Linked DNA regions of Homo sapiens: all the other regions are linked to region 3. The links come from fine-mapping of genetic effects on gene expression. A gene starts in region 3. Each other region holds a variant in brackets. All regions are shown on one strand. Distances are between the middles of the regions. Region 1 overlaps STON1-GTF2A1L (STON1-GTF2A1L readthrough). Region 2 overlaps STON1-GTF2A1L (STON1-GTF2A1L readthrough). Region 3 holds the start of LHCGR (luteinizing hormone/choriogonadotropin receptor).

The links. PIP is the estimated chance that this variant, and not a neighbour inherited with it, causes the effect.
Region 1: its variant is fine-mapped to the expression of LHCGR in tibial nerve (GTEx, PIP above 0.99).
Region 2: its variant is fine-mapped to the expression of LHCGR in sigmoid colon (GTEx, PIP above 0.99). The same link has a PIP of 0.9 or more in prefrontal cortex and prostate.

What each region holds. Positions count from the first base shown.
Region 1 is chr2:48,733,671-48,736,433 of GRCh38, reverse strand. All of the region lies in intron 10 of STON1-GTF2A1L (STON1-GTF2A1L readthrough), which reads right to left. All of the region lies in intron 1 of LHCGR (luteinizing hormone/choriogonadotropin receptor), which reads left to right. Among named protein-coding and RNA genes, the nearest start is that of LHCGR, 21 kb to the left of the region's middle. The variant T/C (reference allele first, on the strand shown) is at 1,576.
Region 2 is chr2:48,593,988-48,596,750 of GRCh38, reverse strand. All of the region lies in intron 3 of STON1-GTF2A1L (STON1-GTF2A1L readthrough), which reads right to left. It overlaps STON1 (stonin 1), which reads right to left. Exons shown (of 4, transcript NM_006873.4): 4 at 1-1,523. The coding sequence ends at 1,449. Among named protein-coding and RNA genes, the nearest start is that of GTF2A1L, 22 kb to the left of the region's middle. The variant C/T (reference allele first, on the strand shown) is at 1,509.
Region 3 is chr2:48,754,456-48,757,218 of GRCh38, reverse strand. It overlaps LHCGR (luteinizing hormone/choriogonadotropin receptor), which reads left to right and starts at 1,495. Exons shown (of 11, transcript NM_000233.4): 1 at 1,495-1,708. The coding sequence starts at 1,548. All of the region lies in intron 10 of STON1-GTF2A1L (STON1-GTF2A1L readthrough), which reads right to left. RefSeq lists an enhancer at 1,161-1,937.

The sequences.
Region 1 (2,763 bases), 21 kb after region 3:
GACTCTGACACAGCTGCACTGAGTGCTTGGCAATTGGATTTGGCTGGGAAGGGGATCAAGTCAGGGCCCAGGTAAGAATTGATAGGAAGAAGGTCTAAAGATAGGATGGTCCTTCTGAGTAGTCCCACCCGGAGGCAAGGGGGCTGGGCCTTTATTCTATACATTGTCCAGTCACTGGATGAGGGCTGCCCAAAAGAGAAGACATAATCCTGGGTGAGGTAGCAATCTTGGTCTGTGTATTGGTCCATTCTCACACTGCTATAAAGAAATACCCAAGACTGGGTAATTTACAAAGAAAAGAGGTTTAGTTGGCTCACAGTTCTGCAGGCTGTACAGGAAGCATGGCTAGGGAGGCCTCAGGAAACTTACAATCATGGCAGAAGGCAAAAGGGAAGCAAGCACATTTTCATGTAGCCAGAGCAGGAGGAAGAGAGAGAGGAGAGGTGCTACACACTTTTAAACAACCAGATCTCATGATAACTCACTCACTCTCATAAGAGCAGCAGCAAAGGGGAAATCTGCCCCCTTGATCCAATCACCTCCAACCAAGCCCCACCTCCAACACTGGGAATTACAATTTGACACGAGATTTGGGTGGACACAGACCCAAACCACATCAGTCTATAAGCATAATTCTAGGAGAGCAACTCAGCTGAGAGCTTCAGCCACCCACTCTTTCCTAGCAGTTGGCGAAATTGGTGCGTCAGTACTAAAGAGTGACTTGGGTAGCCCACCACAGTATCCACTACAGAAAGTAACCCAACTCCACTGGGTAGTCCTAACACAGGGTCACCGTCTGTGCCAAGGGGCCCAGTTTGAAAGTCAGAACTAAGCAGTAAGAGATACTAGCTTGACCCTAACCAGACAGCAACCAGGAACTGTTCTAGGGCAGCAGTGTTCCCTAAGGGGTAGAGATACAGGGATCAGGATCTGGTGATTGAGAAAAAGAGAAGGCAGGAACTAAGAGAAGCCCTACTCCTAGATGGATTCTGGGGAGACCAAGCAAGCTACAGAATAAGAAATCGAGACAAAAACAAACACCAGCATAGCATGTGGGAAGGCACTGCAGGTGCACTCCTGCCCCCAAATATTAATATTATTGGGTCCAGTTTAGACGATGCACAAGCCTCGCCAGAGTCATGACCAATCACAAGATCCCAGTACTAGGATGAATGACTTAATTCCAGCCCTAAGGAGGACAGACTGTTTCGATTTCAACTTTAACACACAACTAGAAGGGTTGGGGACCTGCAGATGAGATTAATGAGTAGATGGAAGTTCCAAGCTGATGAAGCTAACGCAGACTTTGTAATCCAATTGAAGCATTTGTTTCAACATCTGTGGCAAAGGCACTTGGGCAAGGTGCCACCTGCGTTGCCTCATCAATTTATTTAAAAACAAAAGTTCAAAACTGCAAAAAAGACTGTGAAAATATAATAAATTTAAGTAGCTGCATAGTTCTACAGCCATATTTTTCCACAGCCGTCTCACCTTTCAAGAGAGAATCTCCACCCTGCAAGTTCAACCTCATATTTTCCCAGTAACCCTAATTCTTTACCACCCATCTGAGGTGCA[T/C]AGTTGTGGTGTATCACCCTCTTTTGCTGAGACAGAAAGGGCTCTGTCCTTCCTTTATTTTCTTTGCTTTATGCATAGCTTTCATTCCTTTTTTGACCCTGGACAGCAGAGCTGCTGAACTGTCCTTGCCTTAGGCATTTTTGCCCTCAGTTCTCCTTGGCTTCTGCTCTATATCAAATGATACCGACTAGACCTTTCCACAATAGTTCACAAAACTATTGGAATACAAGTATGCCTAACTCCAAAAAAATATGAAGGAAAGGAAAGGAAGGAGGGAAGAAGGGAGAGAGGAGGAAGGAGGAGGAAGAAAGGTAAGCAAGCAGGCTGCCAATACATCAAAATAAACCTTTTTTATTTTCCATTTGTCTCTCTAGTACAGAGGGTTAAGTTGGTCATATTTCTTCATTCAAGTAACATTATCACTAGTCCATTCAAAGTCCCTCTCTGTTTTTAGTTATTTATTTTATCTCCTTCTCCCACTTCTGTTCCTCTCAACTCACCTTAGATAACAATCCTAGTGTATGTTCATGTGCAGGAGGAGGTTAATGTCTAGTGTTTCGTTTACATATATTTTAATTCTGCAAACAGTATATTATATCTCCGTAATTTCTTGTTTCTCTCAGTTCCATGATTTGAAGATCCACCCATGCTACTCTGTGTGCCTTTAGACTCTCACTTCTACAGGCTCTCCTATTCAGTTAGGTGTGTACGGTCCAAATTTTACATACTCCCTCACCTAGTAATGGACACCCAGGTTGCCTCCAAGCCCCTGATGCCACAATGCTGTGAAGAAAACGTTTGTACAAGATTCCTTTAAGTATCAATTTGAGAATTTTTCTCAATGTATACAGGAGTGGAATTGCAGGGTTATTAAGATCATTGTTCACATTGCTAAAAGTTTCTGGCATCATGGAAAGAATCATAGATGCATCCAATAGAGAGTGGGACACCTTCAAAGGGAGTACATTCAAACAGTTATCAACAAATCATAAACTTTATTAATAAATTCTGGAGACAGATACTTGAATGCTTAGGAACTGCTACCCATCAAAGACGAATCAGAAATGAAGATGTGACATTTCTGAAAAAAAAAACATATAAGTCTGTAGGGAAAATGGTTTTCGATTCACAGGACCACATTCTCTGTGTTGCCTCATGGGAACACATCTGTTGTGAAAAGCACAGTGC
Region 2 (2,763 bases), 160 kb after region 3:
ACCATCATAAATGTTTGTCTTAATCTGTTTTTGAACAGATTTCAATGAATGTAATATAATATTAAATATTAAAAAAAACACATGAAATAAACTCTGTAGGCCAACACATAAATGTTGTTTGGAAGAACACTAAATCAGTTTTGACTCAAAACAAATCTAGCAAATAGAGAAAAATATCTCCTAATTATGTTTAAGACTCAACATAAATTGAAGGTATATTAATACCACATGGGGGAGTTTGTTTTTCAGACTAAAAACAATACCTGGAATATAGATTTCATAAATTTTAAAATTCTCACTTTTCACTGTAAATGCTGAAAGGAAATTATAAACAGAATTATAACTGCTAATGCTATTGACTTTTCATTAGAAACCAAACTATTATAGTCATTTACCTGACTCTGAAGAATAAAAATGTTGCCACTTAGAAATCTGGGTAAAATACCAAGTATCTTTCACTTTGCTCACCTTTTAATGAAAAATACTCTAAAATAAGCAGAATTAGCATAAAACAGCATGATAGCAGAACTAGTATAAAATAATCATAATGTGATTTAGACTTCTACTCAAGAGAGGCTTGTGTTCATTACAAATAATACTTTATCAAAATATGTCCTTAGAGTCTGTACTTTTGGAAAATAGTATTTATAAATTTTAAAAATTCATATTTAATATACACAAATATGTTAACTAGTGTCTAATACTCAGATTCCATTTTGAAAGGAATCCTGCCAAGTGAAAGGAAATATGTCTTAGTGATTTATACTAAAATATGTAGGACAACAGAAATAGCTTCTTTGCAGCACGCGCCAGAAAACAAACACATTTTGAAAATGACAATACAGTAGGAGAGAGACAGGTACCAAATATAGCCAATTATTATTTACCAACGGTAAGAGGACAGGTAAATAAGTAATTCAAAAGCACAGATACTTCCAGATCTACATTTTAGCCTGTGGTTTCAACATCATTCTACACCTAGCCACATTTCAGAGGCAAGAAAGAGGGAAAATTAACTATTTTGGTTTATGTCTCCTTTGATTCCCTTACCCTCTAGTACAGACACTAAGCAGCAAGAAGAGATGGGAAGAAATGAAGACGGCACCTCAGTAATCCAGAGAGCAAAACAGTCAGCCACTGAGTAATCAAAAATCATACTGGCTGCGGGGTCACACAACGAGTAACAGTGCCTTTGAGTTTCAATAGGAAGCAAAACATCACACGAATTATAGAAACATTTTAGATCGAACCCCTAGGACAAAAACACATGAAAAGCAAAAAATACAGATTGTTCGGTTTTAGGTCTAAACTTCTCTAAACACAGCCATCAGACCTGTCCTAAAACCGCTATTCAGAAGTCATTTCCACTCTACAGTAGCAGGACTTGGTGTGGTTTCGGTGAATTACATATTTGACAAGTGGGCTGTCATCATAAACTCTTGCTACTCCTACTGAGTTATGCAGTCACCAATTTTATCTGGGTCTTCTCCATCGATTTTAATCCACTT[C/T]TTTTCTATTTCAACCTGTTATGCAAAAGCAAAACACAGGCAGCATTAACAAATGCAACACAGCACTCACACCTCTTCAGTCCTATTTTATACATGTGGCACAGACTGCACAAACCTCACCCTTTGGACACAGACACAGCCCTCTACCCTCCTACAGTAGCTTCCAAGTGAGGCGCTCTGCTCTCCTTTTGAACAACAGAGCCCCTCAAATCCTCCCCGCCAGGGTCAAGTCTTCAAGAGCACCAAAACTGTCTTCTAAGTCAAACGTAGTTTTTATAAAATGTATACAGAATATGTATACTGAAAAAAAATTTACAGATCTGACTAGACATATGATCAATTATCCCTCTACCTGAATATATGGCTGTATCATGTATCTAGCCATTGGCCCCCTTAAGATTTATAATGCACCCAAAATTATCTAATTGAAACAAGCCATCTTACAAACTATTAGGTTGCTGCAAAACTAATGGCAAAAACCGTGATTACTTTTGCAGCAACCTAATAGTAAACCATCTGCTCTTCATCATTTTTGTCTCAGCTCAAATGTCACATCCTCCTGGAGGTCCTCCAGGACTACCCCTGATAAAGCCCTCCAGTCACTCTCTATCCCGTTACCCTATTTTATTACCTTCTTGGAATTTGTTATTAGTTGAAATCATATTTATTTATTTATTTATCTACTAACTATTTTTCGTTTACCCCCACTAGAAACTATGCTCCATGAGGACAGGGACTTTGTCTCTCTGTTCACACTGCTGTGTCCCTGCATGTGGAGCAGTATCTGGCAACAGATAATTACTAAATGGAAGAAAACATTTTGAAACTGCCACCAGGTGCACATCAACTAGTAAATGCTACTAAAGCAAGAGATACTTTGTAAAGTAATTTTTAATTGTCCACTAAAATTGCATGAACCTGGCATGCCCTGTGAATAGGAAAATAAGTATAAACACAGTCTCCATGCCACTTGACCCACATTTCAGTCACACATAATATATATATACCTAGTGTTATAGGTCAGGTTCCCCAAGAAATAAACTCTGAGATGGAGATCTGTGTGCAGAAAGTTTACTGGAGAGTGCCGTTGAGTTCAACATTCATGGGGGAGTGAGGCAGGAAATGAAGCTAAATGGGCAGAGAGAGAAGCTGGGATGCAATGTAGTCAGAATGAAGGCTTCTGTCCATGCCCTGGAGAGCTGAAGCTGGGCTGACCTACAGCGTTAGCCCAAGTTGATGCAAAGGGGCCTATACA
Region 3 (2,763 bases):
CACAATTACAGTGTGTTAGATTACCTGCTGTAGAACCAGGTGTTATGGCCACAACTACTCAACTAGGATGACTCAGAGAAGAATCAAAGTGGAAATGACATTGGGCTGAGTCTTGAAGGACAACTGGGAGTTTATCTAATGGAATAATGGAAAAAGAAGAGAAAATAGTGGGGACAGCCCATGCAGAGGTATTAAAGGGTGAGGAGTCATCTATAAGCAGTTGAAGAGAGGATCCAGAGAAGACAATATTATAGACATGAGCATTGTTTTTGTGCCATCTAGCACAATGTGGCCAAAGCCAAACAAGTTTTTAAAATAATAATAATCTACCCTCCTTGAGCAACAGACTGTAGAATGGTGAATGAAGGAGCCCATCCTTGAGAACTGGCTTCAGAGTGAAAGAAATCTATTCTTATATTTCCTCTCTTCAAAGCCTTAAATGCCTTCCCAGCTTTCAAAGTCCACCTCTTCCAGCAAAACTGCTAGGATTTCCAGAATCCAAACAGAATCCTTGGAAGGAAGAAATGATCAAATCAAAGAGGGGATATTATGGATCCCCATGATTACCGTAAAATTTTGTCTCCTAAGTTCTTTGGTATGTAGATCATAGCAGCTTTTTGCATTGGTGAGAGGTGGTAGGTGATAGACATGAGTTCCAGGTTTCACTACTTTAAAACCGTGTGACTTCAGGGAAGCCACATACCTCTTGGGACATTTTTCTCATCGCAAACACCCTGCTAGTTCAATGTGGAGCTTAAACATGATGTGAGGCAGAGCACCTGTTACAAGGTCTAGCCTATCCTGGGCCTTCTATGGGGCAGCTGCTACCAGTATTAGGCAGTTTCATTCATTCATTCAACAAATCTTTACTGAGGACTTACCATGTAGAAGCCAGAAGGAATACAAAAATAAATCTGAATTGGATTTTGCTCTCAAGGACCTCCCAATCTATAGAAGAGATACAGGACCAAGCCAAATAGCTATACCATAAATAAGAAAGCATTTACCACCAAGAGAAATTACTGGGGTAGTTGGGAGGATGGGCAAAGATTACTTGTAGAGTGGAGGGATTTGGTGAAAGAGAAGGGGAAAGGATTAGGGGTTGAGGATAAAAGAGAGGAAAAATGTCTGAGCCAGGCACTCTTACGCCTTCTGATGTGGGTATAGCGAGTATCCATCGGACCCTTTCACAAATGAAATAAAAGGGGTTCCGGGAAGCGTCACAACTCACTCAATTCAGAACTCCCCACCTCTAATCCAAAACATTTGCCATTAAATCTCTTTACCTCCTATAGCTAGGGCCATTTGCAGATGGTAGGGGACAAGACAGGGGAAAGTAGCAGGAAGGAGGTTATTGGGTCACTGGGCACTGTCGCAGGTCAAGGCAGAGCAGACTCAGCGGGGTGCGCGGTAAGAGGGGGAGGGCAGGGGCGGGCCGGCAGGGAAGGGTGTGTGGAAGGGCAGCCAAGGGGCGGGGAGAGGGGTGCGGGCCGCACTCAGAGGCCGTCCAAGACACTGGCAAGCCGCAGAAGCCCAGTTCGCCGGCCATGAAGCAGCGGTTCTCGGCGCTGCAGCTGCTGAAGCTGCTGCTGCTGCTGCAGCCGCCGCTGCCACGAGCGCTGCGCGAGGCGCTCTGCCCTGAGCCCTGCAACTGCGTGCCCGACGGCGCCCTGCGCTGCCCCGGCCCCACGGCCGGTCTCACTCGACTGTGAGTACACAGCGCTCCCGTCGCGGCGCCCTTGATGCAGGACCCTCCATCGCTCTATGCCACCTTCCCTCCCTACTCCTTTGGCCCCCTTTCCCTGGAAGCTTGGAGAAAAACGCTTTGCCCTATCAAATTTCCCCCACGTTTTAGGGTGATGAGAACCCAAAACTTGGTGGTTGTTTTTACCACCCCATGCCTCTGAGAGCCCCAGCCCCATTCTTTACCCCTGGTTGGGGCTGTGGCCGGGGGAGTAGAACTATTCAGGAACCTCAGGGGAAGGCCTGCTCTCTGCCGCTGCTTGAAGGGAATATGGGTGTGACGCTCCTCAACTCCTCTGGCAGGGGTCTCTGCCAGAGAAGTCTTACAGGCCTTTGAGCCTTGGGCCAGCCACGTCAGGGAAGGTGAATGTGAGCTCTGGCACCCTGTGGTCCTCTAGGAATGGAGTGCTCAGGCCCTATGGCCAAGGGTGACCTAATCTGTCAACTGACTGCTGGCAGTCACACGGGCATCTTAGTGAGCACACAAGCCGCTGCTCCACCGTGCCCAGATGTGCTTGAACTTCAGTCTCATGGTCTAATGGACCAAAGGCCCTGTGCCCTGCCGCTGGCACCCGCGCACCACCTCCACACTCACAGGCCTGATTGAGGGATTGTATACATCAGCAACCTGGGGGAGGGCGTTGTTTCTGGAGTAATGGGGTAAAGAGGAGAAGGGGAGCCTTTAGTACTAGACTATCAGGGTGTCATCAGGTCTCCTTTCTCCTATTTAGAAAAAAAAGTACCACATATTTTATAATACTATTTACATGAAATGTCCAGATAAACTGAAAGTAGATTAGTAGTTACCAGGGCTGGGGAAGCGGATGGGAGGGACAGTAGGTGACTACTAATCAGTGGGTATGGGCTTGGGGCGGGGGGGTGGTGAAATTTTTGTAAAATTAGATTGTAGAGACAGTTGCGTGTGAACATATTAAAAACAATTGCATTGTCCACTTTAAATTCTATAGTGTAGGATTTACATCTCAATACAGCTGTGAAAAGAGAAAAGGAAAGAAAAGA